Regions from separate parts of the Homo sapiens genome. Here all the other regions are linked to region 4. Evidence: fine-mapped expression QTL. A gene starts in region 4. Each other region holds a variant in brackets. All regions are shown on one strand. Distances are from middle to middle. Region 1 overlaps CD5 (CD5 molecule). Region 2 overlaps DDB1 (damage specific DNA binding protein 1). Region 3 overlaps SDHAF2 (succinate dehydrogenase complex assembly factor 2). Region 4 holds the start of SAXO4 (stabilizer of axonemal microtubules 4). Region 5 overlaps VWCE (von Willebrand factor C and EGF domains). Region 6 overlaps CPSF7 (cleavage and polyadenylation specific factor 7).

Region 1 (5,087 bases), 370 kb after region 4:
CAGAATTCAGCCCAGGGCGGCTGGCTTTGTAACCTGCACTCCTGGCCCCTGCCTCTGGCTCACTCCTAGGTCCTGCCGCCCCTGCACCCTGGGAAATGGAGGCAAGGGTGTGGCCTGCTTAGGGTTTGGCAGGCACCCGGATTCACAGGCCTGTGATAATGACCGATGATAATAAAATGACAGCATCCTTACCCTGTGCAGACCCCAGGACAAGGATTTTTCACAGAAGACCCCATTTCTTTCTAGAGCCTCAGAAGACGGGGTGCTATCACCACTTTGTTCCACAGATAAAACACCTATGACTGATTTAGTGTAGTTTGCAAGTCAGGTGTTCCCTTTTTCCCGTAAACAGTGATTCCTTCTAACAGTCCACAGACCTCCCCATAGCTACAGCCATCGATGTCCATGAAATACAATAGATCTGCCTGTGTTTTGGGTAGGATTCTGGATTTTCCTTCCTCGAATCCTATATGTTGGCTGACTTGAAAGGTCAGAAGCCCCTCTTTTCTGAAACGACAGTCATCTGTAGAGTTGGAGCTGTATCAGGGCTTTAGGGAAACGAAGGTCGTAAAGGACCAAAATTCCCTTTCTTGGGTTGAGCACAGATGAAATGATTGGTTTATGATTAGGCGGCTTTTATGTGCAAAACACATATAGAGTCACACTGGGCTTACACCAGGAGAGGCCTGGGAATGGAGCCCGCAGGAAGGAACAGCAGATTCAGGTCTCTAATCTGGCTCACCCAGGGCCTGTCCCAGTGAGCGGACAGTGGGTCGTGGGCAGAATGACCTTTGCTGTTTGAATTGTTATTTCTCTCTCCCACTAGTAGTCTGCTGTTGCATGAGTTTCGCACCATATACGGTGTCTCTGCTGTCACAGAGACAAGGCTTTGGTTTTGTTTAGAGCTTTACCTACCCCAAAGCTCTCTCATGCACTAGACTTGTTCTTTCTACCCACAGCCCTGTGAAGAAGGGACCATGCTCACCTCCATTTTCAGATCAGGAAACCGAGGTTCAGAGAGGCTGAGTGACTTGCCCAAGGTCACACAGCTAGCTGGTGGTAGAGTCAGGAGAGAAACCCTGTCTCCATCACCTGACAGGGCCTGTGGGAGTCTACCCCAGGGAGGCCCCAGAGCCTGCTTGCTCTGGAGTACAGATGGGGGAAACTGGGGCCAGAAGGAGGGAGGGGTTCATTCCAGATGTCTCTGTGGGAATCTGTGGCAGTGCATGGGACCCTTGTCGTCTCTGCAGACTGCCACCACCCATTTCCTACGCTATTCCTACCGTATCTGTCCCCCGGAGAGGAGTATTAGGGTCCCTCTGGACACCATGAAAGTCAGGCCTTGAAAGGTACATGATGGTGATGATGATGCTGGTCACGGTGATAGTGGTAGCTATAGAAGAAGTGATCCAGGCCCACAGTCTCTTATCTGCAATTCAAAATCCAGAATCTAAAAGTCTTGTTCTAATGCATTTGGTGGGAGGGTGTTTGCTGTCTTTACATCCCTCTAAGTGTGCAAATTCATGTTTCACTGCAGAAATGGGAATGTGTTGAACGCAGGGTGCTGCCCCAGGCCTCACTGCGTGTGTTAAGAGCACACAGTATGTACACAGTATTTCCTTCTACAATCTGAAAGCTTCTGGAGTTCCAAATGCATCTGGCCTGGGGTTCAAGATGCACTTGAGGACCTGGAGAGGTGAGAGTTATGCTCACCTCTCTGCTCCTGTGTGGCTGTCCAGTGCATGGGAGAAAAAGCCCAAGTCCTCACGGGGGCATCCGTGGCCCTCGTGGCTGCCTCATCGATCCCCCACTGACCTGCAGCTGGAGGCCCCTCTGCCTGCAACGCTTCTCCTCAGGTCCCACACGGTGGGCTCACTCCCTTCTTTCAAATATTGACTCAAATATCATCTTCTCATGAGAGCCGCTGAATCCTCCCCAGGTACCTCACACCCCACCAAGGCTTCCGGTCCCAGCCCTCCTCTATCTGTCTGTCTCCACACCTCTCATGACCGTCTAGTATTCGCATAATCACTAGCTTAGCTTGTGTCTTGTTTGTCTCCCCATCACACCCTGACTATTATGCCAGATCCACCAGGGCAGGGATTTTCCAC[C/A]GTTTTGTTCACTGCTGTGTCCTCAGCACTTAGAACAGCATCTGGCACATAGTAGGTGTTCAATCCATACCTAGTCTCTGAATAAACCCGATGTAATTATTGCAGTGATCTTTTGAGGTGGACACAGCAAGGAACCCCTATTTTTATAGATGAGACCCTGAGAGATGTTCACTTGTGGGTGGCCAAGCAGAAATCAAACTAGGTCTGCATTGCTCCAAAGCTCCCCTCCACAGGGCTGTGCACATATGTGTTCATACGCAAACACAGCACATGGACACACACACACACAGTAGATGTTCAATTTCACACACACACACAGAATAGATGTTCAATCAATTTTGTCAGGTTGAGCTGAATTCGCCGCCTGGTCACTGCAGGGAAAACCCCTCTGAACTGATGGTGACAGAGTGACCCAGGAAGGCCAGGTCCCTTCCTGGGCCCCCAGGTCCCTTCATTCCCTGCTGGAGGTGGGGAGCTCTGGGTCTTCGAGGAGGATGATCCAACCAGGGCCTCGCCCAGCCTGGGACAGTGGGCCTGCTGCCCTGCTCCCAGTAGGAGCCCCACCCTCTCAGGCCTGTCCTTCCCCCTTGCCTTTGCCCTGCCATCCGCTCTGCCTGGGACCCTCTTCCCTTTTTTCTCTGCCTGGCTGGCTCCGTCCCTCATTCAGGTCTCGGATTCTCAGATGAGACCTCGCCTCCTTAGAGAGGCCCTCCCTGCCTGCCCAGCCAAAGGGATGTCCTCCTATCCTAGTGCAGACTGTATTGTGCCTGAGGAACTTGCTGTTCTCCTCATTGCACTCAGTATTTCAAAATGTGTAAATATTTCGGGTGCCTTTTTTTTTTTTTTTTTTTTGAGATGGAGTCTTGCTCTGTTGCCCAGGCTGGAGTGCAATGGCGCGATCTCGGCTCACCGCAACCTCCGCCTCCCAGGTTCAAGCGGTTCTCCTGCCTCAGCCTCCTGAGTAGCTGGCATTACAGGTGCGTGCCACCACTCCCGGCTAATTTTTGTATTTTTAGTAGAGATGAGGTTTCACCATGTTGGCCAGGCTGGTCTTGAACTTCTGACCTCAGGTGATCCACCCGTCTTGGCCTCCCGAAGTGCTGGGATTACAGGCATGAGCCACCATGCCCGGTCTTTGGTGCTTGTTTACTTGTGTTCTCTAACAGCTCTCCTGTTAGCTGATCAAATCCTTGAGGGCAGGGACTCCTGCCTTGGTCCCTGTATCCCCAGTGTTTTGCACAGAGCTGGATGCACAGGAGATGCTCAATAATATTTGTAGATGAAAAATGAATGAATTAGTGAATAAATAGCCTGTGCAAGAGGATTGAGGGGTAGAGAGATTGACGGCTGTGCAGGCCTCTGGCAAGACCCTCCTCCCCATTGGCTCCTACCTCGCATTGTTTCTTGCTGACCCTGGTAATAATAATAATCATAGTTGTTGCTGTTATTATTGTTTATTGAGTACTTACTATACTATATGCCAGGATTGTACTTAAGCTCTGTGTGCATTGATTCATTGAATCCTTATAAGCCTCTATGAGGTACTGTTGCACCCAGTTTACGGATGAGAAAACTGAGGCTTACAGAACTAGTCCAAGGTCGCCCAGTTGGTAAGTGGCAGACTGGAATTCAAACTGCAGAGTCCATGACTTTCCCACGTCCCAGTGCTGGCTTTCAGAGTCGCATCGGCTAGGCCAGTCAGGGACGTGCAGTTTGTGTTAGAGCCGCTTCCCCGCCTCACTGCCAGCAGCTGTCCAGGCAGGCTGGGGCTGAGAGGGGAGCAACTGTGGGAAGCCCTGGCCTGTCACTAGCACCCAGGCCTGCTGGGGGCATCTTCATGCCTCAGGATCCAAAGGTCCCCAAGCCCCGATGCCAGCCAGGAGGCTGTGGTGTCCCCAGGGCTCTGGCATTGCTGCCTCTCTCCTTGGAATGGCTCAAAGGGTGCCTGCACTGTTTGACTCCAGCAACCCTGGCCCTTGGTGTCCCCAGCTCTGGTGGCTGTATCTCTGCTGGTGGAGGTTGTGTCCCAGGGCCATTTTCCTGCACACGGAAGTGCCTTTGGTGGCCTTCCCTTTTAGCTAAGGGAGGGGCCTCTGTGAAGGCAGGAATGCTGGGCTGGGGTCAGCTCGGCTGTGCACCAGCTGCTGCACCCTGGGTTTGCACTCGGCCTTCCTGGGCCTCGCTTTTCCCCACTGTAAAATGGGGCCAATGGGCCCACCTACTTCATTGGCTGTTGTGAAGCTTGCAGCAGAAAATGGCTTTAAAAGTGCTTTGTAAACCGTTACCCACTGAACAAAGGGAATGCTTGGTACCCACCGGCTCACTCAGACACTGGGAACTGAGTATTCCTGGGGTTCAAGGAGGTCCCCATACTGGGGTGAAGGGGCTACCTCCAAGTCTTCCTGACTGTGGCCTGTGTTGGGCCAGGGGACTTGCCTGGTGCCATCAGGAGCCTCACCCATGATGGGATTCAGTTGGGAGGGCCCTAGAGCAGGACACGGGTTCCCATACTCAGCTGGGAGCCGCCCTATCTCAATGAAGTCTGAGGCCAGAGGTGAGGAGCAGGTGGGGGGTTTAAGGGCCTGGTCCCTCCTTAGCAGGGTCCCTGAAGCCAGCCAGAGGTCTGTCTCAGGCCTCTTACTTTGGGACAGAAGGCATTTTGTACCTGTTGTTGTTACATGTGAGAAGAACCATGTGAACATGTGTGCACAGGTGCCATTGTCACATGTGTTGGGGAGATAATCCTGCCTTTGGAGGCCGCATTGTGCTCATGAAAGCACACACACACAGTTCTCACACACATGCGCACAGACTCCCACACACAGACTCACACACAGACTCACACACAGACTCACACATTCCCCCCACACAGTACTCACACACATGCCCAGAGACTCACACACAGACTCACACACAGACTCACACATTCCCCCATACACAGTTCTCACACACATGAACACAGACTCACACACAGAC
Region 2 (5,000 bases), 180 kb after region 4:
AAATGCATTATTTCTGAGAGGTTTAGGAACCCCCTTTCAGTTAGTCGTCTTGAATGTAAAAGAACAGTCATCCTGTTGGTTGGTTTTCCTTACCTGGAGTGGAAGATGAAAATTTAATACAAGTCGAGTTTTGTTAGGTGAGCATGAGAAAGGGGAGAGGGGTCAGGGCGTTGGAATCTGCAAGACAGTTATTATGTGATTATGGTGGTGGACTATGAGCATCTGAGAAGAGGCAGAGCGGAGGACACGAGATTCAGGAAGAGTGCAGTTACTTGTAATGCCAGGCTTTAAGAGGTGGTCATAAGAATGGACAAAGTAAGTGGGAAAGAAGGGGTCAGAAAAGCTAAGAGGTGAGGGTATTAGAAGGACCTTCTCTGTGAATATTATAGTCATCAAGACTTATAGGAGGTTGTGTGGGAGAGAGTGATGGGTGGGTTGGGGATTCAGGTGACTGCTTTAGTGGGTGATGGTGGTTGTGTGGTCTGGTGGTGTGAGCCTTAAAACTGTGGTGTTTCAGGGGAGGGAGTGACAAGTCTGAAAGAGCAGACGAGGAGCTTGGGAGACTGTGCTACCTCCTGTTCCAGTGCTATGAGGGACAGTGGAAGAGAAAACAGACAAGTTAAGAGGGCCACAAGGCCCTTAGGAAAGAGCCATGGATATGAGTTAGAATGAAGTGAAGGGTTTGCCCAGAGAAGTGGCTGTCCATGGTTAATGACTGTGTTCCAGAGGGTGCAGTGAGTGGGCACAGGGATCAGGAGGGTGGAGGGTGGCATTTGAGGTCAGGTGAGGACATATCTGTTCTGTTGCCAGCCAATAGAAATATTATATGAGCGATGTATGTCATTCTGAATTTTCTAGTAGCCACATTAACAAATGCAAAAAGAAGCAGGTGAAATGAATAAGGTATTTTATTTAACCCAATATCTAAAATATTAGCATTTCCACATGTAATCAGTATAAAAATGCTTATTAAGATATTTTACAGTTTTTCATACTAATAATTCAAAATCTGGTGTGTATTTTATAGTCAGAACACATCTCAACATGGACTAGGCACATTTCAAGTGTTTCATAGCCATGTGTGGCTAGTGACTACCATATTGGACAGTGGAAGTCTACAGCCTTTTGGGAAGAGAATGGGAGTCTTGGCCTTCTGGTGGTGTCTGGCTTTAGTCTTGACTCTCTCCAAGGCGATGGGGAGGTTGAGAGTGTGGAGAGAGAGTGGTGGCAGGTGTTGGCAGGAACATGTGGAGCTCTGAGGCCCCCCGCTTCACTCTTTCTGTTGGAGGTGTGGAGGCCCAGCAAGGTGGGCTTACCTGAAGACGGGGCACTCTGGAGGTACCTTTTACCCTGTGATAGAGGTGTGGTAACCATAGTATGTATGTATGTGTTTATTTATGAGATGGAGTCTCACTCTGTCGCCACGCTGGAGTGCAATGGCGCAGTCTTGGCTCACTGCAACCTCCGACTCCCTGGTTGAAGAGATTCTCCTGCCTCAGCCTCCCGAGTAGCTGGGATTACAGGCACACGTCACAATGCCCAGCTGATTTTTATATTTTTAGTAGAGATGGGGTTTCACCACGTTGGCCAGGATGGTCTCGATCTCCTGACCTCGTGATCCGCCTGCCTTGGCCTCCCAAAATGCTGGGATTACAGGCGTAAGCCACTGCGCCCCGCCAACCATTGTAATTATTACAAATGATTCTTGGAATATATTCCTGTGTAGCTAGGGTTCTTTGGACAAATCTTGAGAAATTGTGGTTTGATTAATATGTTCTGCCCAGGAGTTTCTAGATGTGCAGAGGCCATGGGGATTATCTGGATCCTGAAGGATCTGCCAGGGGAGGCTTGTCAGTTCAGATGGGTTGAGTCTGTCTTCTTTAGCACTGGGCCGTGCCAAGTAGCTCTCCATTTGTCTACTGATGATAAAGCATTTTCATTCTTTTGGAGATGTGGTTGTAATTGAAGAAGCACTGTGGTGGAGACAGAAAAAAGCAGTTTCTTTTTTTTTCCTTTTTTTTTTTTTTTAGGCGGAGTCTCACTCTGTCCCCCAGGCTGGAGTGCAGTGGCCCCATCTTGGCTCACTGCAAGCTCCGCCTCCCAGATTCGCACCATTCTCCTGCCTCAGCCTGCCGAGTAGCTGGGACTACAGGTGCCCGCCACCACGCTTGGCTAATTTTTTTTTTGTATTTTTAGTAGAGACGGGGTTTCACCGTGTTAGCCAGGATGGTCTCGTTCTCCTGACCTCATGATCTGCCCGTCTCGGCCTCCCAAAGTGCTGGGATTACAGGCGTGAGCCACTGCGGCCGGCTGCACAGTTTCTTTTTCCCTCTTGCGGGGTGGTAGAGGGTGGCTGTAGAATCAAGTTCTTCAGGTTCCTTTAGTTATTTGTCAATGTTTCTGTTGGACTTTTCTTTCTTTCTTTCTTTCTTTTTTTTGAGACAGAGTCTCGCTGTGTCGCCTAGGCTGGGATGCAGTGGCATGATCTCAGCTCAGCTCACTGCAACCTCTGTCTCCTGGGTTCATGCAATTCTTGTGCCACAACCTCCTGAGTAGCTGGGATTACAGGTGTGCGCCACCAAGCCCGACTACCCACATTACTGTTTCCTTTACGTGGACTCATTTTTTTATGTAAAGGAAAACTTGGGAAGTTTTGTATTCCTGGTTTGGTGTGTTCATTGTGTTTTCATATTTCATAAATATGTAATAGTGAAATAATAAATGTTCACCCCAGTGCCTCATAAAACCGTTTCCTGTCCCGCATTGCACTTTGAGAAGTAGTGCTGCAGATGAAGGGT[C/T]GAAGAGTTGGGGGGAGTCATTCTGAGAGAGCTCTGGCCCCTTTGGCTGAGAGAGACAATGCCCTTCCCAGGTGCGGCTCTATGAGTGGACAACAGAGAAGGAGCTGCGCACTGAGTGCAACCACTACAACAACATCATGGCCCTCTACCTGAAGACCAAGGGCGACTTCATCCTGGTGGGCGACCTTATGCGCTCAGTGCTGCTGCTTGCCTACAAGCCCATGGAAGGAAACTTTGAAGAGGTGATGCTGGTGGGGGGATGCGAGCAGACTTCTTGCTTGAGCCACCGCCCCTGCAAGTGTCTCTGGTGGGGAAGGATAAGCCAGCCCAGTATTAGGGGCAGAAATGTTTTCCCCGGAGCAGACATTCTACATTGATTAAGTTTTTTTTTTTTTTTTTTTTTTTTGAGACGCAGTCTGGCTCTGTCCAGGCTGAAGTGCGGTGGTGCGATCTCGGCTTACTGCAAGCTCTGCCTCCCAGGTTCACGCCATTCTCCTGCCTCAGTCTCCCAAGTAACTGGGACTACGAGTAGCTGGGACTACAGGCACCTGCCAACACGCCTGGCTAATTTTTGGTATTTTTAGTAGAGACGGGGTTTCACCTTGTTAGCCAGGATGGTCTCGATCTCCTGACCTCATAATCGGCCCGCCACGGCCTCCCAAAGTGCTGGGATTACAGGCGTGAGCCACTGTGCCCGGCCCTGATTAAGTATTTTTAGAGACTCCCAACTCAAACTCTGACTAGGCTCCATCTCTGGGCAGTTGGCAACCAAATGGGCTGCGTTGGCAGAGAGGTCGGGGAGAATCCCTCTAGGGTGACACTTGTTGAACACCATGCTATATCTTCTGCAGGGTGGGGCCTTGCTCCTGAATAAAGGAAACACAAGTCCCAGAACTGGATTCCGTGCAAACTGCTGATTATGCTTTCTTCTTTCACCTTGTCTGTTTTAAGATTGCTCGAGACTTTAATCCCAACTGGATGAGTGCTGTGGAAATCTTGGATGATGACAATTTTCTGGGGGCTGAAAATGCCTTTAACTTGTTTGTGTGTCAAAAGGATAGGTGAGTAGTGGCCAGCTCTGGGAGTGGTGGGGAGGGCTGGGAGTTCCTTGGTCTCTGGTGGATGCAAGCATTGGGTTCTGTGTCAGGTTCAGGTGCTCCTGTTTACAGAGATAGAACTTTCCTCGTCAGAGAATAAAAGGTGACAGAAATCCACCTCTTTAGACTGGCTCCCCTACTGTGGAGTATGTCAGCTCCCCAGGGAAATTGAGCACCGTGACCACTGCACGTGGTCCTGTCTCAGGGCCTGTGGTGGAAACAGGAGGTTCAGAAAGTGACTTTCTTACCGCCTTTCAGCGCTGCCACCACTGACGAGGAGCGGCAGCACCTCCAGGAGGTTGGTCTTTTCCACCTGGGCGAGTTTGTCAATGTCTTTTGCCACGGCTCTCTGGTAATGCAGAATCTGGGTGAGACTTCCACCCCCACACAAGGCTCGGTGCTCTTCGGCACGGTCAACGGCATGATAGGTAAGGTCACCCCTGTGGGGCACACCCCCACACAGGCCTCCTTCCTGATACCAGCATTCTGAGGGACTGGGGAGAGCAACTGTACAAGACCTAGGTGTTTACTAGAGGAGGCTGCAGCACATTAGCCCTCCCTGAGCTGCTCACCTGGGCTGCCCTTTACGTAGAGGATACATGCTGTGGGGTTGAGCTCTCTGCAGCTCACTGCCTCCTTCACTTCTTCAGGGCTGGTGACCTCACTGTCAGAGAGCTGGTACAACCTCCTGCTGGACATGCAGAATCGACTCAATAAAGTCATCAAAAGTGTGGGGAAGATCGAGCACTCCTTATATCCTTCCCAGAGCCATCCCCTTGCTGGGAAGCACATCCCGGCATATGTGGCACACGGAGTCACATTACCCGGAAGCTACTACATGTCTTGATTAGGTTCCTGTACAGAACAGGTTTTTTGTTTTGTTTTGTTTTTGACTTTTTCATGTGGAAAATTTCAAACATACACAATAGAACAGTATATTGACTCCCAAAGTACTTATCACCTAGCTTCCGCTGGTCCATCTTGGAAATGTACATTTATATTCCTGAAATGTGTCCGCCTCTGGCCCTCTCGGTGTAGCAGGCCAAATGTGAATTTAGATCACAACACAGGAGCACATCCTTTCAGGGATTTGGTTGAGGGCAAC
Region 3 (5,087 bases), 36 kb after region 4:
CTTCCTCGCCTGCCCTGCTTCTGCGAGTCTCACTTCCATTCCTTGCTTAGGGGAGAGTGCTAGATTTTTCCATCAAAGGTCTTGTCACCAGGGTCTGTTTTCTCTCTCGTCTTCACTGGGAGGTAAGACATTCTGTGGTTCTATTAATAGGCTCAGCTTTCTGACCTGCAGATGAGAAACCCTGGATGTAGCTATGGTGACCTCATTGATATGCCAGGCAATTTGTGTTAGGGACAGGTTTTAAGTCTCAGACTGAGGCTATGACTAAATGCTGACATTCATATCTAGAGTACATACTGTGCAAGTTACCATGTAAGAGCTTTGTGTGTTTCATCTCATCAACTAGCTGAGACAGGAAGCATTGTCATCCCCATTTTATAGATGAGGCAACTGAGGCTCAGGTCAATTCATGTATCCAGCAGGTAAGCAGCAGAGCCAGGATTTAAATGTGTAACCAGTGCACTGCGCTGCTTCCTCACAGAAGCTTCACTGGGTGATCAAGTTCAGATCTACTCACTTGGCGAAGCACCTGGCAGATTCCTACCCACCATGTAACACAGAGGTCATGTCTCAGAACTGTCACATCTATTTGCCACAGCTTTCCCAAACAGAGACTTCTATTAAATTTCCAGCAGTAAGGCAGTGTGTTCTAGTAGAAAGTTCAAGAGCTTTGGAGGCAGACTGAGCTATACTAAATTCTGCTTTTTCGACTCAATAGCTACCTGACCTTGGACAAATTACTTCCTCTCTCTGAGCCCACTTTCTTATGTATAAAATACAGGTAACACCACTAGTCTAGAGTGCTGTGAGGCTTAACTGTGATTACGTAAAGGCTAGATCTCTTCCCTTCCCTCCTGAGCCACCAGGGATACTGAAGAGCAGGCAGGAACCATGAGGTGGCTCTGTAGGAACCCTGGAGCTCAACAATGCTGGAAACATGTGCGTGTGTAGTCCCTGTGTGCGGCTCCTATAATCACCAACCACCTGCTCATCAAATCTGGCCGACCTTCTTCTAGTCAACACCTTTAGATGCACCTGGTCCAGTCTGGGTGACTGATTCTACTGCCTAGATTACAGCTCTGAGGGCAAAACCCCTCCAGGGAGGGCACCACTAGCAACACAGAAGTCACACAGCCCTAGAGCTTTTAAAAACACTTCTAACTAATTCATTCTAATATATTATTTCTTATGTATTATTATTTAGTCAACTAATTGTGAAGACTGTAGGAATGAGGGGGAAAGTTTTCTATAGTGCTACATGAAAATAAAACCTGTAATTGTGAACTTGTAAAACTCTATAAACATGACTATGGGTTATATGAAAATAGACAAAATTAAAATTAATTGTGAGGGCTGGGAAATTGTAAATTTCCTTTTTTCAGTATGCTTTAATAATTCTCTTTCAAATTACAAAGTGCACGTTTTAAAGAAAGCCCAATGATGAAGATGTTGACTCCTAAGCAGTGTGCCCACACCACTCCTGCCTGTGGCCCTCATTCTGCCTGCTGTGCCTTTGAAGGATTCAGCTCAGGAGGCTGGGATCAGCTTCCCTTCGCAGAAGGAGCCATACCAGGTTGGAAGTGGGGAGTTCCACTTCAACAAAGCCCTGGGCCACTGAGGGCGGGGAGCTGCAGGGAGGGCGGGAGGCTTTCCATACAGCACGCACAGCTGGCTGCCTCTTTTCTTTGAGTACACTTGGGCTGAGGCAATGAGCAAGCACAACTGCTTCGCCTGCAGTGCCCTCTCGTGGCAGACTTGCCTCTAGAGATAGCAGCCAGGCAAAGCCTGCATGCCAGCGCTGCTGACAAATCACTTTTGAGGCTCAGAGCTGAACAAAAAAGTATGAGAATGAGTCACATTGTGCATTTACATGTATGTCCTAGGAGAGGGTTATGTCCATCACTTGAGGCAGGACCAGTGGTCTGGGGTAGGGCAGCTGGGCATCTAAGAAGCCGGAAGCAAGGCTAACGTCCATCATAAGTAGTTACCATCCACAGACTGAACCCCCATGCCAGGCC[G/A]TGGAGCACAGCTCAACGTGGCTTTTCAAAGAGGTACTCAAGATCTGGGGCACGCAGTCTCTGCTCTTTGTTTTTGTTTTTAGCAAAGTCTCTCAGCAGGGCCATGACTTCATTTTCAAATATTTCTGGGGCTGGTTTAGCTTCTGCAAGAGAAGAGTGGGCAGAAAAAATTATGCCATAGTCAGTCAATGCTCAGGTATGAGAATCTTAAAACTCGAAACACTGGCCAAGAACCACAGATGGATATATAGACTGTCTCCATCCTTCTTCTAAATATACACGATGTTAGCCTATACCAGGGGGTGGCAAACTGTGTGAGCCTATATTTGCAAGTCGTTTTATTGGAACAGCTGCTCCCAATGGTTTACATATTACCCATGCTCCTTTTGTGTTATGACAGCAGAATTGGGTACTTGCAACAGAGACCATATGACTACAAGTAAAATACTTACTATCTGGTCCTTTATGAACAAGTTTGCTGACCCCTGGCCCGCACAATCTTGGCTGTACTATTTTGCTTTGCATTTGGCAATTCCATTGTTCCCCAGACATTGTGTTTTCCCTTGCAATGTATATATCTCTTGAAACAAAAGCTCTCTCCTTTGTCTATCAGTTAGAGGTCCTCAGTTTTAAGAGACAGAAACTAATAACTCTAGTAAACTTAAGCAAAAAGGAATTTATTGGAAGGATATTGGAGGCACACAGAACTGTCATGAGCCTAAAGAACCAGATTTCAGTGAACGGGCAACATAGGCACTGAGTCAGAAGAATGAGAAGGCCAGCCTCAGTCTACGGCAGTGGGTCTGGCAGTGTGCTGCTCCCCCTGACCTTTCTCTACACCCTTGGGACACTTATTTAAGATGCCAATTACAAGCAAAGCCTCCCACTGCCAAAGCCGAGGCAATGTGCTCCAGAATTACCCTTCCACCAACACTAGGTACGACGCCAGGAGAGAGAATTCCTCAAAACCAAGTCAGATTCTCCCTTACTCAGCACAGGGCCTGGCATCTAGTGAGGGCTCTGTTTTCATGTGACAATCAACATAAGATCAAAGAGGTTTTGGCTTCCCCCAAGAAAGTAGAAAGTTGGAAAGAATATTGCACTCACTGTAACAACAAGAAAAAGCCAGATAAATTACAAATATTATGACTTTTCTCAAAGATATCAGAGAACTGAGGTCACGAGGCAACCCAACAGACGAAACCTAAGGAAAAAGAGGCCCTTCAAAGGAGAAACGAGAGCCATGCACTTGCTCACCTGTGGCAGGCACAGGAAGAAGAGACACTGGACATCATACAAATGGGTAAAAGGAATTCAGCTAAAAAAATTTTTTTTTTTGTTTGAGACGAGTCTCACTCTGTCGCCCAGGCTGGAGTGCAGTGGTGCGATCTGGACTCACTGCAAGCTCCACCTCCTGGGCTCACGCCATTCTCCCGCCTCAGCCTCCCGAGTAGCTGGCACCACAGGCGCCCGCCACCACGCTCGGCTGATTTTTTGTAATTTTTTTTTTTTTAGTAGAGATGGGGTTTCACTGTGTTAGTCAGGCTGGTCTTGGTCTCCTGACCTTGTGATCCGCCCACCTCTGCCTCCCAAAGTGCTGGGATCACAGGCGTGAGCCACCACGCCCAGCCAAAAAAATTTGTTTTAAATTAATACAGACAGGGCCAGCCTTATGTTGCCCAGGGGAGACTGCAGTGGCTAGTCAGAGGTGCAATTCCACCACTGATCAGCACAGGAATTTCGACCTGTCCCATTTCCAGCGTGGGCTGGTTCACCCCTCCTTAGGGAATCGGGTGGTCCCCTGCTTCTGAGAGGTCAACATACTGTTGCCAACTTTACAGCAGACACCTGATTGGTATAGAGCACTGCAGCCAAGAATTCCTGGGCTCCAGCGATCCTGCTGCCTCAGCCTCCAGGGCAGCTGGGACTGCAGGCCTGTGCCACTAAAATTTGCAATGAATTGTTAAAAGCCAAGTGTGGGCTAGCATGAGTGTATAAAACCACAGACACAGGCTGGGCACAGTGGCTCACGCCTGTAATCCCAGCACTTTGGGAGGCCGAGGCGGGTGGATCACGAGGTCAGGAGATCAAGACCATCCTGGCTAAAACGGTGAAACCCCGTCTCTACTGAAAATACAAAAAATTAGCCGGGCGTGGTGGCGGGCGCCTGTAGTCCCAGCTACTCGGGATGCTGAGGCAGCAGAATGGCATGAACCCAAGAGGCAGAGCTTGCAGTGAGCCGATATCGCGCCACTGCCTCCAGTCTGGGTGACAGAGTGAGACTCCGTCTCAAAAAAAAAAAAAATTAGCCAGGTGTGGTGGCACGTGATTGTAGTCTCAGCTACTCAGGAGGCTGAGGCAGGAGAATCGCTTGAACCTGGGAGGTGGAGGTTGCAGTGAGCCGAGAGGGTGCCACTGCACTCCAGCCTGGGCGACAGAGCCAGCTTCCACTCTAAGCACACGTTAACGCTAGACACTAGTAATGCAATGAAGGTAACCAAAGCAAAAACAACCCAAGCTGAGCTTACCTCCCAACTCACTGACTTGATCCCCACACTAACAGTAAAGTAGAAGAAGCATCCCCAATTGTAAGCATAAATACAATTATGAGAAAATTACGAGACATATACACAAAAGAAGAAAAAAACAACACACTGTCAAGGGACAAAGAAATCAACAGAAGCAGACTGAGGGATGACCCAGATGTTAGAACTATCAGACAGGGAATTTAAAATGACTATGACTAATATTAAAGGCGCCAGTGGAAAAAGCAGACAAAATGTATGAACAGATGAGAAATTCTAGCAGAGTTGGAAACTCCAAAAGTCAAATGGAAATGCTAAAAACAAATACAGTAGCAGATATGCAGAATGGTTTCAACAGGCCCATCATGAGATTTGACATCATCAAGGAAAGAATTAGTGGAAGACAGGTCAATAGATATTATCTAATACAAATAACCCAAACTGATGCACAAAGAGAAAAAAGAATAAAAAACACAAAACAGAGAACCCAAAAGCTGTTGGACAGACTGAGCACAGTGGCTCACGCCTGTAATCCCAACACTTT
Region 4 (5,087 bases):
CTCACTGCAACCTCCGCCTCCCGAGTTCAAGCAATTCTCCTGCCTCAGCCTTCTGAGTAGCTGGGATTATAGGTGCGTGCCACCATGCCCAGCTAGTTTTTGTATTTTTAGTAGAGATGGAGTTTCACCATGTTGGCCAGACTGGTCTCAAACTCCTGACCTCAAGTGATCTGCCTGCTTCAGCTTCCCAAAGTGCTGGGATTACAGGTGTGAGCCATCGCACCTGGCCTCCAACTCCTTCACTTCTCTTCCTCCCTGCTTCTCCCTGTTGTATTTCCTAACCCCCGCCCCACCCCGCACTCCACCCGCTCTTATCATCTTCAAATATGAAGGAGATATTCAGAACATTCTCGCTGGATGAATGAATGAGTGTCCATTTTGGTGGTGGTGCTGATGATAAGAAGGGTGGTAATAATGAGGATAGAAATGAAAAAGATGGGGCTGGGCGCAGTGGCTCACGCCTGTAATCCCAGCACTTTGGGAGGCTGAGGCGGGCAGATCACGAGGTCAGGAGATTGAGACTATCCTGGCTAACACGGTGAAACCCTGTCTGTACTAAAAATACAAAATATTAGCCGGGTGTGGTGGCACATGCCTGTAATCCCAGCTACTGGGGAGGCTGAGGCAGGAGAATCGCTTGAACCCAGGAGGTGGAGGTTGCAGTGAGCCGAGATCGTGCCACTGCACTCCAGCCTGGGCAACAGAGTGAGACTCCATCTCAAAAAAAAAAAAAAAAAAAAGAAAAAGAAATGAAAAAGATGGGGTGAGGATGTCCATGGTGGGGGGACAGTGGTGGTAGTAGGGACAGTGATGGGGCTTGCAGGTGTGGACGGGAGTGTGAGGCTCATGGGAATGGGGACAGGGATGGGGATGGAAATGGAGGTGGAGGTAATGGTGGGGCTGGGGCAGGGAATAGAGGTGGTGGGGATGGTGGGGACAAGGATGAGGACAAAGGGGAGAAAGATGAGTGGACCCCATCCCTACAAGGTGGCTGCTCCATGCCCTGTCACCTCCACCTTGACCAACTGTTGGCAGTGCAGCCCTAGCCCCACCCCACCCTGAGGCTTCCCTCTCCTGGCCCTGGCCCAGCACTGACCTCCTTGGTGGGGGGACCCGCACTGGGCTTCTCCCGCCCATAGCCTGAGCTGGTCTGGCGCATGCTCCAGGGCAGGGGATGCTTGCCGTCAGGCACCTCCAGGGGGCGGTAGCTCTGGCTGGCCACAGACTGGAAATGGTCCTGGGCTTGTTCCCTGAGGGTGAGGAGGAGCTAGAACCCCAGGCCGCCTGCCTCTGTCCTCTGCTAAGGAGCTTCCCTCCTCCCTGCACCCTCCCACAGATGGCTCAGAGGTCCGCTGTGCCCTGAGTCACCCAGGACCCCCAGCCTAGGGCAGGCAAAGCTCAGGGTCCCCATCCAAGGAACCTGGAGTTGGTCTGATGAGCAGGGCAGGGGCTGGGAAGGGGCCATACAGACCGTACCCCCTGGCCGGGTTGTCTAAGGCCTCCAGACTGGCTTGGCATGAGACCACGGGCTGGAAATTTGATTTGTAGCCGGTGCCTACGTGACTGCCCACACGGGGCTTGAAATCCTCCCGACCTGCCAGAGGGGTAACGGGGAGACAGACCCCAAGGTCAAAAACAGGCAGGGCTTCCCAGGCAGGGCCAGCGTCCTCCGAGGGGCACAGGGGTCACAGTGACAGGGGAGGGCTCAGAGCCACGGGCAGGAGCTTTGCAAGCCTGCCCTTTCAGGACTGTGATGGCAGGAAATGGAGTGGGTGGGCTGGGGACAAGGTCAGTGTGGCAGAATCACAGTGACAGAATTGCAGGGACAGAACCAGAGAAGGGAGCAGCCGGGCAGGGCCCAGGGGACAAACGGATTCAGCAGTTGCTCTGCAGTGTGACAGCCAGAGGGTCTGCTCCTCCCTCAGAGAGAGCCCCTCCCTTCCTGCCCATGTCCTAGCAGAGGCTCCTGCGCAAAGGCACCCTCACCGTAGGCGGTGCAGTAGCTGGTGGCGTAGAATTTCAGGGGGTCCGTGTAGCCCCCCGAACTCATCTTCACATAAGGGGAGACGACCCCCAGGGGGAGTTTCCCCATCATGATGCTGTGGGGCAGGGCCCCAGGGGGCCTAGAAAGGAAGCACGGGGAGCCTCATGGGTCCCAAGCCTGGCTCGGAAGCCCACAGGGGCGAAGATCTGCCCCCCACCACCCACAACGCAGCTGGCCCCTTCTCCCAGGCCTCTGTCTCTCTGCCCCAGCTCCCAAGTCCCTAAACTAAGGACGAAACCGATCATCCACACTTATCCCAAGAGTCCTCATGTCTCCTCTCACTTTCCCACACCTTCTTATTAACTCTTCCTGTCCCCATTTACCACTGGGACAGTGAGGTTCCAAGTGATAAAGGATTTGCTCCATAATAGGTGGTAGTGCTGGGATTCAGACCTAGGTGTTTGACTACTCGGCCCCTGACCTGAACCTTACATACCCACCTCTCGGAATGAATGAGCCGACAACCCACTACCTGGGGAATTCTTGGCCCCCACCCAAGAAGTCAGGCCGAGGCGCTCACTCCCAGCCCCCGGCTCCTCTCTCTCCCTCATCTCCATGGCCTTGCCCGCCTCTGGCCTTGCCTGCCTCCCCTGGGAATTGGCTGCACTCTCCCCGAGGCCCAACCACAGCGGCCCCACCCTCACCTTTCCTCTGCAGAGGCTCTGAGGTCGGGGAGAGGCTGCAGGAAGCAGAGCTCTGCAGAGAAGCCAGCCCTCCTGGAGGAGGCCAAGCAGGAGAAACAATGTGTAGCCTAGCAACTGGTGCCTAGCAACAGCGTCCCCAGGCTTCTGAGACCTTCTAGGGCCAGGGCCCACTGAGGGGCTGACCTGGCCAGGAGGGGAGGGTCAGAAGCTGCCCGAGCAAGGCCCTGCTTCCAGGGCTCCGGCCCCAACCTCCGGCCTCCTCCACAGGGCTGGGAAGAGTTGCTGTCTGCGTGACATAAAATAAAAGATAATCCCGAACACTCACTCCCATAAAGTACCCACTTCTCGGCAGATACTTTACATCCTCTATCTCCATCCTCTGAGCAGCTCTTCAGTAGCTATGATTATCCCCATTTTCACTGGGGGAACATGAGGCTTAGATAAGCAAAATGACTTGACTCCAGAGATCTCGCAATCAGAAAATAGCCAAGTTGAGATTCAAACGTGGGTGGATGTGGATCCCGCTCTTCTGCCTCTCGGTAAATCAACATTTACTATGTTCCTCTGGAGCTGAATCTGTGCTAAGCCCTTTAACACACATTACGTCGTGTAATCCCCCAAACCACCCTGTGAACTGGGCACTATTATTGTAGGGCCAATAAACCGCAGCAGTTAAGAGTGTGGTTCAAATCTGATCTGTCACCTTTGATGAGGTACTTATCCTCTTCACGCCCCCAAATCCCCATCTTCGCAAGGGACGTGACTGCACCCACCTCACAGGGCTGCTGGCAGATTTAGCAAGAGCATGGATTCAGCACCTGACAGGTAGTAAATGCTCTTTTTTTTTTTTAAGAGAGACAGGATCTTATGCTCTCACCTGGGTTGGAGTACAGAGGTACCATCATAGCTCAGTCCAGCCTCCAACTCCTAAGTTCAAGCAATCCTCTTGCCTCAGACTCTCAAGTAGCCAGAACTACAGGTGTGCTCCCCCCTGCCTGACTTGCTTATTTATGTATTTATTTGTTGTAGAGACAGCGTCTTGCTATGTTGCTCAGGCTGGTCTTGAACTCCTGGCCTCAAGTGATCCTCCTGCCTCAGCCTCCTGAGTTGCTGGGATTGCAGGGGCAAGCCACCACACTCGGCAAATGCTCAATTTGCAAAAGCTGCTGTACTTTTAGTCTTATTTTGCAGATAGGAAAGGCGAGGCTCAAGGGGAAATAGCCCAGGCCCCACAGTGGGTGGAGACGGAGCCTGGACTCAAATCTGAGTGCGCAAACTCCACAGTGAGAATCTTCTTCCATGACAGCCTTTTTGCCTCAAATTGGCTTTCAGGCTTGTAAATGTTGTAACAGTTAGATCTCTGGGTGGGGTGGGATAGCCCTACTTTGCAGCATTTGCCAATTTCTGTGATGTCAGTGGTCCCATCAGGGCTGCTTTCAAACCACCACTACAGTGTCTTTGAACCGGGACATGGGAAGGTCGCTCACCACTGTACGGGAGTAGTCCCATCATGCAGACATAATGGGCGTAAGTAACCTCGACAGCACAAATAATAGAAAAATGTACTCACATAATTAAGGGGTGATGAGTTTTAGGTATTTTTTTTTGTTTTTAATATAATTCATTAAATTGCAGGTTTAAGTTATTTATTTATTTATTTATTTATTTATTTATTTATTTATTTATTTGAGATGGAGTCTTGCTCTGTCCCCCAGGCTGGAGTGCAGTGGCACGATCTCAGCTCACTGCAACCTCCATCTCCTGGTTCAAGCAATTCTCCTGCCTCAGCCTCCTGAGTAGCTGGGATTACAGGTGCACGCCACCACGCCCAGCTAATTTTTGTATTTTTAGTAGAGATGGGGTTTCACTATGTTGGCCAGGTTGGTCTCGACCTCCTGAGCTCAAGTGATCTGCCTGCCTCAGCCTCCCAAAGTGCTGGGATTACAGGCGTCAGCCACCGCGCTCGGCCAGTAATTTAATTTTTAACAATGGCAGAGTTAAAAACCAGCTTGCCAATTTCCTGGAAGTTTCGCCTTCAGCTCTCCTGAGCCGGTAGAGCTGGCTTCAGAGCACCCCTGCTCTCAGGGGAGAGTGAGGTATGAATGAAGGCTGAATAAAGGGAAAGGAGGCATCTCCTTTCCTCACCCAGGAGATGCCCTTGCCGCATTCATCCTGTAGTGACCTGGCCTGCCAGGGTGGAGGCTCACTCGTGTCCTCACCCAGCCCCCCATGGGAAGGCAAGCTGAAGCACGTTTGGCACCCACCCTCCGGACTAACGATTCTGTTCAGGGATCACAGGGCACAAGGACACAGGAGTGAGTGCACACAGCCCTGCCCTCCAGCAAAGTGCTCCCATTCTACTACAGAGGCTCGTGGGAGTTCCACACACGAAGCACAAA
Region 5 (5,087 bases), 220 kb after region 4:
AGTATCATCCAAGGTGGCATCACTCACATCAGGCTTCTGGGGCTGTCAGGAATCAGAGAGGGGAGTAGTGTTGGGGAATGTTCTGGACAGGCGGGGTTGGTGGTTTGAGTGAGTTTGGAGGGCAGAGAGGAGGTTGGGAAGATGCTGTGGGGCCTCACACACACCTCGTATTTCCCAGTTCTTCCACCTGATCCCCCCTGGTGAGGAGGTAGAGGATGAATCTCCCCACTCTTCAGGGTGAGGACACTGAGGCCAAGACACTTGATCCTTTTGCTGAATCCAGTGGGAAAAAAGTCAATACCCGATTCAGACAATCCAAACAGGCGTTTTGTCCCTTCCCTAACTCCCAGGGTGACTGCCTGGGGAGGCACATGGCCTCCCCTTTGCCATCCAGATAAGCCTGTGACCTTGGCCCTGGCGGGAAGCCTGGTGCCTGGCCACTCCCAGCTGGTGCTCAGCGCATGCTCTCTCTGGCAGGCTGCACCTACACAGGCAGAATCTTCTATAACAACGAGACCTTCCCGTCTGTGCTGGACCCATGTCTGAGCTGCATCTGCCTGGTATGGACCACCCAGATCTGACTCCCGCCCCTGGAAACTCCCCCACAACTGACATCGGCTCCTGAATCCCAGAGGCAAAATCCAGAGACCTCCAAGACAAGGGATGCTTCTGGTTCATGGTGGAAGTCAGCTCCCTCCAGTCCTGCCCAGGGTGACCCTTTAGACAGGGCCAGAGAAATTTTTTTTGTTTGTTTTTGAGATGGAGCCTTGTTCTGTCACCCAGGCTCCCAGGTTGGAGTGCAGTGGTGTGATCTTGGCTCACTGCAACCTCCGCTTCCCGAGTTCAAGCGATTCTCCTGTGTCAGCCTCCCAAGTAGCTGGGACCACAGGCATGCACCACCACGCCTGGCTAATTTTTGTATTTTTGGTAGAGACGGGATTTCGCCATGTTGGCCAGGCCGTTCCTGAACTCCTGACCTCAGGTGATCTGCCCACCTCAGCCTCCCAAAGTGTTGGGATTACAGGCATGAGCCACTATGCCCAGCCCAGAGAAATATTTTTAAACCTGGCTGGCAAAGTCCTCTGCTTCCGGGTTACCCCCTAGAGAGAGTCTTAGGGATTCTTGATGAGGGTGGAGGTGAAACGCACAAACCCAGAATCCAGTACTGGAACCTTTTCAGTAGACCCATGTGGTCAAGCTCTTGCAGTGTGCCACGCCCTTCATAGGCATGCACTCAGCTAATCCATTCAAGAGTTTATCATCTCATTCTTCTGGATGAGAAAACCAAGGCACAGAGAGAGTCTTTGCTCAGATCCCGTAACTAGTTAATCAAAGTACTGAGAATGGAACCCTAGTATTGTGATTCTGAGATGCATATTTCTTCTCCTGGGTCATACTGCCTCTCAGTCTGAAAAAGCATGTCCCATAGTATCATTTAGTTTTTGGAAAATGAAAAAAAAATTGTTTTTTTTTTGAGACAGGGTGTTGCTCTGTCACCCAGGTTGAAGTGCAGTAGCGTGATCTTGGCTCACTGCAACCTTGACCTCCTGGGCTCAAGCGATCCTCCTATGTCAGCCTCCCAAGTAGGTGGGATCACACCCAGCTGGGATTACCACCACACCTGGCTAATTAAAAAATTCTTTTCATAGAGATGGGGTCGTGTTGTATTGCTCAGGCTGGTATGGAACTTCTGGGCTCAGGCAATCCTCGCACCTTGGCCTCCCAAGGTTTGGGGATTACAGGCATGAGCCACTGCACCCAGCCAAAAATTTTGTTTTTAGCTTTTTTAAAAATGTAGCTAAAAAATTTTACATAAAAAAATACTGAGACAGGATCTTGCTCTGTTGCCTAGGCTGGTCTTGAATTCCTGGCCTCAAGTGATCCTCCTACCTCAGCTTCCCAAAGTGCTGGATTATAGGTGTGAGCCACTATGCCTGGATGAAAAAAATAATTATTTTATTTTATTTTTTTTTTTTTGAGACAGAGTCTCACTCTGTCGCCAGGCTGGAGTGCAGTGGCACAATCTTGGCTCACTGCAACCTCCGCCTCCCAGGTTCAAACGATT[C/T]TCCCGTCTCAGCCTCCTGAGTAGCTGGGATTACAGGTGCGCACCACCACGCCCAGCTAATTTTTGTGCTTTTAGTAGAGTCGGAGTTTTGCCATGTTGGCCAGGCTGGTCTCGAACTCCTGACCTCAAATGATCCTCCTGCCTCAGCCTCCCAAAATGTTGGGATTACAGGTGTGAGCCACCACTCCGGGTAAAAAAATTCTTCATGCTTAGCATGCTGACGCCCTGAATGCGGGATGACGCTGCTTTGCTGGTGTGGGTGCAGATGCGGTATTTCTTTGGTGATCAGTGAGCCTCAGCAGAGTACATGCGTGACAAGGGACACGGTCTGCAGAAAGATTGAGAAACTCACGGTAAACAGCCCTGAGCTACTTACCCTGAGTGACCCACTGCACGTAGGCCCTAGTTGTTCTCAGCCTCGGGCTTTGGGGAACTTTGGCCCCTGGATCTTTCTCTATCGGGTTTTGGTGCTTATCTTTTCTGGGCAGTTTATGCAACAGGCACCCGTTAACAGATGCCCTCCGTGGACAAGTCCATGTTCTTACCTTCGAGGGGCTTGAATTCTAGTGGGAAGTTGGACCCCAACAGAGAAAATGCGCCCCCTGCCCCACTGCCCCACCATGGACTCCTCCCACAATGTTGATTGTTCTGATGGACACTCAGTGGCTATAGGAGCGGCATCTTCCTGAGTGTCTTGTCAGCTGCCCTGAACCGAGGGCCTTGTGTGTTTTCTGTGTCCTGCAGCTGGGCTCAGTGGCCTGTTCCCCCGTGGACTGCCCCATCACCTGTACCTACCCTTTCCACCCTGACGGGGAGTGCTGCCCCGTGTGCCGAGGTGAGTGGGACCAGCTGCCCCACGTGCCAGGTTCCCGGCCAGGCCTCGGCTCTCATGGGCTCCTGTCTCCCCTTCCTCCACAGACTGCAACTACGAGGGAAGGAAGGTGGCGAATGGCCAGGTGTTCACCTTGGATGATGAACCCTGCACCCGGTGCACGTGCCAGGTGAGCTGGGCCTGGGAACCCAGGAGCGGCCCCGCCAGAGGGCAGCTTCTTGCCTTTTGTCCCTTTGCAAAACATGGAGCCCTTTAGCCAGCATAAATCCATCCTCCTGCCATCCTCCGCCTTTAATTAACTGCCAGAATATCTTTGGTTTTGACCATCTCCTCCCTCTGTGGAAGTCCAGAGGGAGAAGTGGTTTCCCAAAGGGGGTCCTGCCATAGCTGGCTTTACCTGTTCTCCAGGCGAGGGCTCAGGCACTGCAGCCTCTGTCCTGGGATCTTTCCGTGGGTCCTGCTGCTGGTGCAAGAGGCCCTTGAGGGCACTGCCCAGGGCAGGCAAGATGCTCTGGGCTTCCTCATGGGGTTCCTTCTGCTTCCCCAGCTGGGAGAGGTGAGCTGTGAGAAGGTTCCCTGCCAGCGGGCCTGTGCCGACCCTGCCCTGCTTCCTGGGGACTGCTGCTCTTCCTGTCCAGGTAAGTGGGTCTCTGGGTCCTGGAGTTTCTCCGCCATCTTCTTCCATTTTACTTTTCTTCCCCGGTACATAGAACTTGTAAAGGGCTGGATAAGAGAAAGCCATGTTCAGAGAGGGAACACGGCTCGCGCAAGGTTGTACAGCTGTGCTGTGGCCTGCTGACCCTCATCCCGTGCTCATGATGCCACACACCATGATGTCTGTTTATTTGCACTCCCTTTTTCTTCTTCTTCTGCTTTTTTTTTTTTTTTTTTTTTTTTTTGAGACTGAGTCTCCCTCTGTCACCCAGGCTGGAGTGCAATGGCGCTATCTCACCTCACTGCAAGCTCCGCCTCCCGGGTTCACGCCATTCTCCTGCCTCAGCCTCCGGAGTAGCTGGGACTACAGGTGCCTGCCACTACGCCTGGCTAATTTTTTTGTATTTTTAGTAGAGATGGGGTTTCACCGTGTTAGCCAGGATGGTCTCGATCTCCTCACCTCGTGATCCGCCCGCCTCAGCCTCCCAAAGTGCTGGGATTACAGGCGTGAGCCACTGCGCCCGGCCTGCACTCCCTTTTTCTTCTTTATCCCCTTTCTTAACCTCTTCCTATGCTTTCTTCTTTATTTTAAATTACAACATGGGAACTGAGTCCGTTTTGCAGAAGAGTAATCTCTAATATGTGTTGAGCACCCACGGTGTGCCGGGACACCTCATGTGTCTACACCCCTGCAATACTCTTGTCATCCTCCTGTGCCAGGTGAGAAAACAGGCCCAGGCAGGTGAAGTGCTGTGCTCAAGATCACATAGCTGATTGGTAGTAGAGCCAGGGTTTCAGACTGGAGTCGATGCTTTTAGATAGGACAGTGGATTGATTCCCAAGAACTGACGCCACTGAACTCCAGCCTGGGCCACAGAGAGACACTGTCTCTAAACAACACAAAACACAACACAACACATATTTCTCCTGTCTAGCTGAGATTGTGTACCCTTTGACAATCATCTCCCCATTCCCCTCGCCCCTGCCAGCCTTCGTAACCACGATTCTATTCTCTGCTTCTTTGGCTTCAACCTTTTTAGATTCCACATAAAACTGAGATTTTGCAATAGTTGTCTTTGTGTGTCTGGCTTATTTCGCTTAGCATAATGTCCTCCAGTTTCATCCATGTTGTTGCAAATGACAGAATTTCCTTTTTTTTTTTTTTTTGAGGATTCTCACTCTGTCACCCAGGCTGGAGTGCAGTGGCGCGATCTCAGCTCACTGCAACCTTTGCCTCCCAGGTTCAAGTGGTTCTCTTGCCTCAGCCTCCTGAGTAGCTGGGATTATAGGCGCACACCACCATGCCCGGCTAATTTTTGTATTTTTAGTAGAGACAAGGTTTCGCCATGTTCGTCAGGCTGTTCTCGAACTTCTGACCTCAAGTGATCCACCCACCTCGGCCTCCCAAGGCACTGGGATTACAGGCGTGAGCCTGTAATTTCCTTCTTTTAAAAGGCTAAATAGTATTCCATTCTGGATAAAGAAATGTGGTATATGCACACAATGAAGTACTATTGATGGATGCTTAGGTTGGTT
Region 6 (5,087 bases), 59 kb after region 4:
ATTCTGTTTACGTGTCATTTGAAAATCCTTGATTTAAAAAAAAAGAAGGCTGGGTGCAGTGGCTTACGCCTGTAATCCCAGCACTTTGAGAGGCTGAGGTGGGAGGATCACCTGAGGTCCGGAGTTAGAGACCAGCCTGGCCAACATGGTGAAACCCCATCTCTACTAAAAATACAAAAATTAGCTGGGTGTGGTGGTGCACACCTGTAATTCCAGCTGCTCGGGAGGCTGAGGCAGGAGAATCACTTGAACCCAGGAGGCGGAGGTTGCAGTGAGCCAAGATTGCGCCACTGCACTTCAACCTGGGTGACAAAGTGAGACTCTATCTCAGAAAAAAAGAAGAATCTTGGTGTGAAGTAGTGCTTTCTAAGGATTTGAGCATTGGATGGGATCAAGTGATGTATATAAATCCTTTCTCTACCTTGAACCACAGGAGCAACTCACCATACCTGGTACATGAATAGAAGAGTGATTTGTCTATAGAGTTGGGATAGTTTGAGACGTAACAGCTATGAAATATTTTATAGTGATTACTTACACACAAAATGTTTTCCCACTCATTAGCCCTAGCTGACCTCACCTTACTTTATTATCCACCCTGTCCTCTCCAGTGTTAGCTTCTCTCCTCATTCTTTACATGCTGACCCTTTTTATGCACAATCCTTTTTGATGGATTTGACTACATGGAACAAGCTTCCTGTGCTTATTTGCCTCACTAATTTCTTGTTGTTAAGTTGCCCCCTAAAAGTTTACTGTCTCTTGATATTCTTTTTCTAACGTTTTTACAAGGGTTAAGCCCTCCTGGTGGGTTTCTTAGAGTGTTTTAATATTTGAAATTATTTATATGCTTTAGGAAGTAGAATCCTTCCCCCTTCTCTATCAGAACAACCCAAGATTATTCTCTTAGTGTGCATTTTCTTCCACTGTACTTCAGATAAACTGAAAAACTGAAAGATTGTTTCCAAAGGTTCTTATAATACAAGGACTGGTCTAAGAGTAAATTTTTTAGTGAGTCGTCTTCAGATCACTTCAGAATTAGCAGTTATTGCCGTGATATTGGAGGGAGAAAGTTAAGGGAGCCGCCTGTCTTTAGTTGCCTTGGAGAAACTGTTTCTTCAGGGTACTAGACAAGTTTCCCAACTTAGGTGCCTCCTTTATTCCCTTTTTAAAAGAATAGCAATATGAAACTGCCGTAGCATCCTTAAAACACTGAACTACTTGCTGTCTCTGTCATTTTGGCAGCATTATCTTTAGCATTGTTTGAATGTTTTGTCTAATTCTTGTAATAAAAATAAAATGCTTGTCTAATCCTTAAAAAGATTTCTCTGAGGCTAGGCACGGTGGCTCACGCCTGTAATCCTAGCACTTTGGGAGGCCGAGGTGGGCAGATCACGAGATGAAGGGTTTGAGACCAGCCTGACCAACATGGTGAAACCCCATCTCTACTAAAAATACAAAAATTAGCTGGGCATGGTGGTGTGTGCCTGTAATCCCAGCTACTCAGGAGGCTGAGGCAGGAGAATCACTTGAACCCAAGAGGCAGAGGTTGCAGTGAGCTGAGATGGCGCCACTGCACTCCAGCCTGGGCAATGGAGCAAGACTGTGTCTCAAAAAAAAAAAAAAAAAAAAAGATTTCTCTGAGGTAATTACATTGTAGAATCCTGAACCCTTTTTTTTTTTTTTTTTTTTTTTTTGATATGGGGTCTCACTCTGTTGCCCAGGCTGGCTCACTGCAACCTCAACCTCCCGGGCTCGAGTGATCCTTCTGCCTCTCGAGTAGCTGGGACTATAGATGTGTGCCACCATGCCCAACTAATTTTTGTATTTATTGTAGAGATAGGGTTTCACCATGTTGCCCAGGCTGGTCTGAAACTCTTGGGCTCAAGCAGTTTGCCTATCTCTGCGTCCTAAAGTGCTGGGATACAAGGCGTGAGCCACTGCACCCAGCCTGTAAAATCCTAAACATTAAGGTCCTGTATCGTAGTAGTAGTAGTTGTAGTTTTAGGGGTTTTGGTATATAGTAAGTAAGATATCACATAGGCAGAATATGTATTTTGCACATTTTCCATAATACATATTCATATTGTAAATGCTTACTGTGTGATACAGTTTATGTTCTTGTCCTGTTTTCTGGCCCTTATATTTTAGAGAACTTTAACTGTTTTTTGTATATCATTGAATATTGGCTGGGCATGGTAGTCACCCCTGTAATCCCGGCACTTTGGGAGGCCGAGGCCAGTGGATCACTTGAGTCCAGGAGTTCCAGACTAGCCTGGGCAACATGGTGAAACC[C/T]TGTCTCTACAAAAAAAATTTGAAAATTAGCTGGGCATGGTTGCGCATGTCTGTAGTCCCCAGTTACTTGGGAGACTGAAGTGGGAGGATCACATGAGCCCAGGAGGTTGAAGCTGCAGTGAGTTGTAATTGCACCACTGCCCTCCAGCCTGGGTGACAAAGTGAGACCCTGTCTCAAAAAAAAAAAAAAGTCTCCTAGATACATGTCATGGTAATGCATTGGGCCTGTATGTCATTTAAGAAATAGAACTTAGTAGGGGAAAACCCCTGTTGTTATTCCCTTCCCTTTTATTTATTTTTTATTTTCTCCGATGGAAAGATGGGATTGTGTACAATGAGTTTAGAGCTTTCCTAAATCATTTATACCAATCAAGGGATTTAAATCAGTAACTCCCAATCTTTTCTGCATTTTTGTACCCACTTTCATGCTTTTCCTCTGCATTCTGTTTCTAAATAAATTTATTATTAAATAGACAAGTGAATTTTATGTAACACTTGATTTTGGAAATAGCATAAGATACTGAAAATAAGTTTTCATTAGCTTATCTTAGATGTGGTCTTTAGAAGCTGACCTTATTGATAACAGCAGCCCATGCATCTCATTATGCATTCTTTCTTTGCTTGCTTAATCACCCAGTGCTTTTTGATTCTTGCCGTTGGCTAAAGCCAGAAACTTTACAGACTATTAACAGAATCTTGAGGGGAAAAAAATGTACATAAGCATAATTAAGTGATACAGTTTCAAAAGGAGGTTTTTCTTACTTTGTTTCCTGGGGTAGGACAAGGAAGTTTTGTACATGTTTTACCAAGTATTTAACTGGATTCTAATAAACTAGAGTGAAATAGAATGAACAAAATGAAGTTTGCAGACCTACCTTTGCCAACCCCTCATCTCTTAGGACCCAGAGTTCAACAATACAGATCAGATTGACCTGTATGATGATGTGCTGACAGCCACCTCACAGCCCTCAGATGACAGAAGCAGCAGCACTGAACCACCTCCTCCTGTTCGCCAGGAGCCATCTCCCAAGCCCAACAACAAGACCCCTGCAATTCTGTATACCTACAGTGGCCTGCGTAATAGACGAGCTGCCGTTTATGTGGGCAGCTTCTCCTGGGTGAGTGTGGGTAACCAAAAATGCTTAGGGGTGGGCTGGAGGGAGAGCACTGGGAGGTGATGGCATTTTCAGAAACTACTGTTGCACTGTTTTGTGCTCTGATGGGGTTGGATTTCTTTTTCCTGGGATCAGGTTGGATTGATCTCTGAAAGAGAACTATCCTGAGGACGTACTGGTGCCGAAGAAAGCAATGATTAAGTGGGTAGTTGCTTTTTCTGCCATCTTGTTACTGCCCCTGACCCTGGGGCTTTATGTCTAGCAGGGTCATCTGAGGGACGAGATTTCAGAGTGAACACCTTGAACTCTTGGTGGTCATTAGATGGTCCTGTGATAATGGTGGGTGATGGGGATTAAAGACCTTGATAACTCTAGTATACTTGGGGTAGGTGGTGACTGTTGTTCTGCAAGTTATTTTGTGATGTTTTGGGGCTGGTGGTGGGGGTGGTTTTTCCAAATTAGGAAGTATATTTACTGTGGGGGAAGTTCTGGCAATGGTCAACTCTAGCCTGACAGATCTATAATTAAAAAATTGCTAGCTGTCAATGTTTGAACTGATGACCAGCCAGCCCAAACGGCAGTCAAAGTTACAATAAGTTTTAATCTTCGTAATCTCTAAAGATGGAGATTGGGGGTGAGTGGGTTTGGAATTCTGTATGGGTGAGGACAATAAGAAAAGTCTGCACTAATTGAAATATTGCCAGGCTTTTGAGTTTCCTCTGGGGGGACTTAGTTGTGACTAGAATCCTGGGTTTGGGACATTGGCGGGCGGGGGTGTAGCTCTTGACATCTCTTCCTTTTCCATCTTGCCGGCCCCAGTGGACCACAGACCAGCAGCTGATCCAGGTTATTCGCTCTATAGGAGTCTATGATGTGGTGGAGTTGAAATTTGCAGAGAATCGAGCAAATGGCCAGTCCAAAGGGTGAGGTCTGGATTTGAGAAGCCCCTTTTAATTTGTAACCATTGGGATAAAAGATCTGTACTATATTTTGGCCCTGGATTTTAATCACTCCCACCCCTGGCCCAGCTTACTGCCTTGGTTTTGGCAAACTGCCTTAGAAAGGGACCTAGCTGCAGTGTAGTAGAATATCCATCTGTTAAGGGGCGAAGAATACTGATTTTTAATTCCAAAAAAATAAAGATTTAGGCTGTCTCTTTGTTGTTAGTGCTGTATGTGTGTTTAGTTTAGCAAGATGTCCTTTGCTTTATCAATTTTTACTAAAAGTGGAAGAGAATTTCTTTTTTCTTCTCTTGGCTGTCTACAGATTTCATTCATTTTTAATTTTTCTTTCCTAAGGTATGCTGAGGTGGTGGTAGCCTCTGAAAACTCTGTCCACAAATTGTTGGAACTCCTACCAGGGAAAGTTCTTAATGGAGAAAAAGTGGACGTGAGGCCGGCCACCCGGCAGAACCTGTCACAGTTTGAGGCACAGGCTCGGAAACGTGAGTGTGTCCGAGTCCCAAGAGGGGGTACGTGGAGACCATCTGTATGAGGGGGGGGTGTTTGTGGGTTTGTTTTCTATGGTGTAGGCTTAGCCTACAGTGTGGGTGAGTTTGGGGGAGGGTGATGGTGGTTGTGAGTGGTGTCATGGTCGACAAGTAGTCCTCAGAATAGGTCTATATAGAAGAAAGAGCATTGTGCTGGGAGTCAAGTAGGTTCAGGTTGTAGTTTGGTTCTG

Evidence for each region.
Region 1: its variant is fine-mapped to the expression of SAXO4 in whole blood (INTERVAL, PIP above 0.99).
Region 2: its variant is fine-mapped to the expression of SAXO4 in whole blood (TOPMed, PIP above 0.99).
Region 3: its variant is fine-mapped to the expression of SAXO4 in whole blood (INTERVAL, PIP above 0.99).
Region 5: its variant is fine-mapped to the expression of SAXO4 in whole blood (TOPMed, PIP above 0.99).
Region 6: its variant is fine-mapped to the expression of SAXO4 in whole blood (TOPMed, PIP above 0.99).

The regions. Positions count from the first base shown.
Region 1 is chr11:61,104,001-61,109,087 of GRCh38, reverse strand. All of the region lies in intron 1 of CD5 (CD5 molecule), which reads right to left. Among named protein-coding and RNA genes, the nearest start is that of CD5, 4.1 kb to the right of the region's middle. The variant C/A (reference allele first, on the strand shown) is at 2,112.
Region 2 is chr11:61,301,905-61,306,904 of GRCh38, reverse strand. DDB1 (damage specific DNA binding protein 1) reads left to right here. Exons shown (of 27, transcript NM_001923.5): 22 at 2,870-3,040; 23 at 3,750-3,859; 24 at 4,154-4,323; 25 at 4,546-4,648. Among named protein-coding and RNA genes, the nearest start is that of VWCE, 9.1 kb to the right of the region's middle. The variant C/T (reference allele first, on the strand shown) is at 2,799.
Region 3 is chr11:61,443,015-61,448,101 of GRCh38, reverse strand. SDHAF2 (succinate dehydrogenase complex assembly factor 2) reads right to left here. Exons shown (of 4, transcript NM_017841.4): 4 at 1,369-2,161. The coding sequence ends at 2,031. It also overlaps the pseudogene RN7SL23P. Among named protein-coding and RNA genes, the nearest start is that of SDHAF2, 15 kb to the right of the region's middle. RefSeq lists an enhancer at 1,013-1,760. The variant G/A (reference allele first, on the strand shown) is at 2,019.
Region 4 is chr11:61,478,818-61,483,904 of GRCh38, reverse strand. SAXO4 (stabilizer of axonemal microtubules 4) reads right to left here and starts at 2,785. Exons shown (of 14, transcript NM_145017.3): 1 at 2,689-2,785; 2 at 1,987-2,123; 3 at 1,477-1,594; 4 at 1,097-1,250. The coding sequence starts at 2,095. RefSeq lists an enhancer at 1,054-1,348.
Region 5 is chr11:61,262,935-61,268,021 of GRCh38, reverse strand. It overlaps VWCE (von Willebrand factor C and EGF domains), which reads left to right. Exons shown (of 20, transcript NM_152718.2): 16 at 478-560; 17 at 2,810-2,900; 18 at 2,984-3,066; 19 at 3,445-3,535. Among named protein-coding and RNA genes, the nearest start is that of PGA5, 24 kb to the right of the region's middle. RefSeq lists an enhancer at 507-1,706. The variant C/T (reference allele first, on the strand shown) is at 2,066.
Region 6 is chr11:61,419,713-61,424,799 of GRCh38, reverse strand. It overlaps CPSF7 (cleavage and polyadenylation specific factor 7), which reads left to right. Exons shown (of 10, transcript NM_001142565.3): 3 at 3,192-3,410; 4 at 4,227-4,330; 5 at 4,706-4,851. Among named protein-coding and RNA genes, the nearest start is that of CPSF7, 7.7 kb to the left of the region's middle. The variant C/T (reference allele first, on the strand shown) is at 2,293.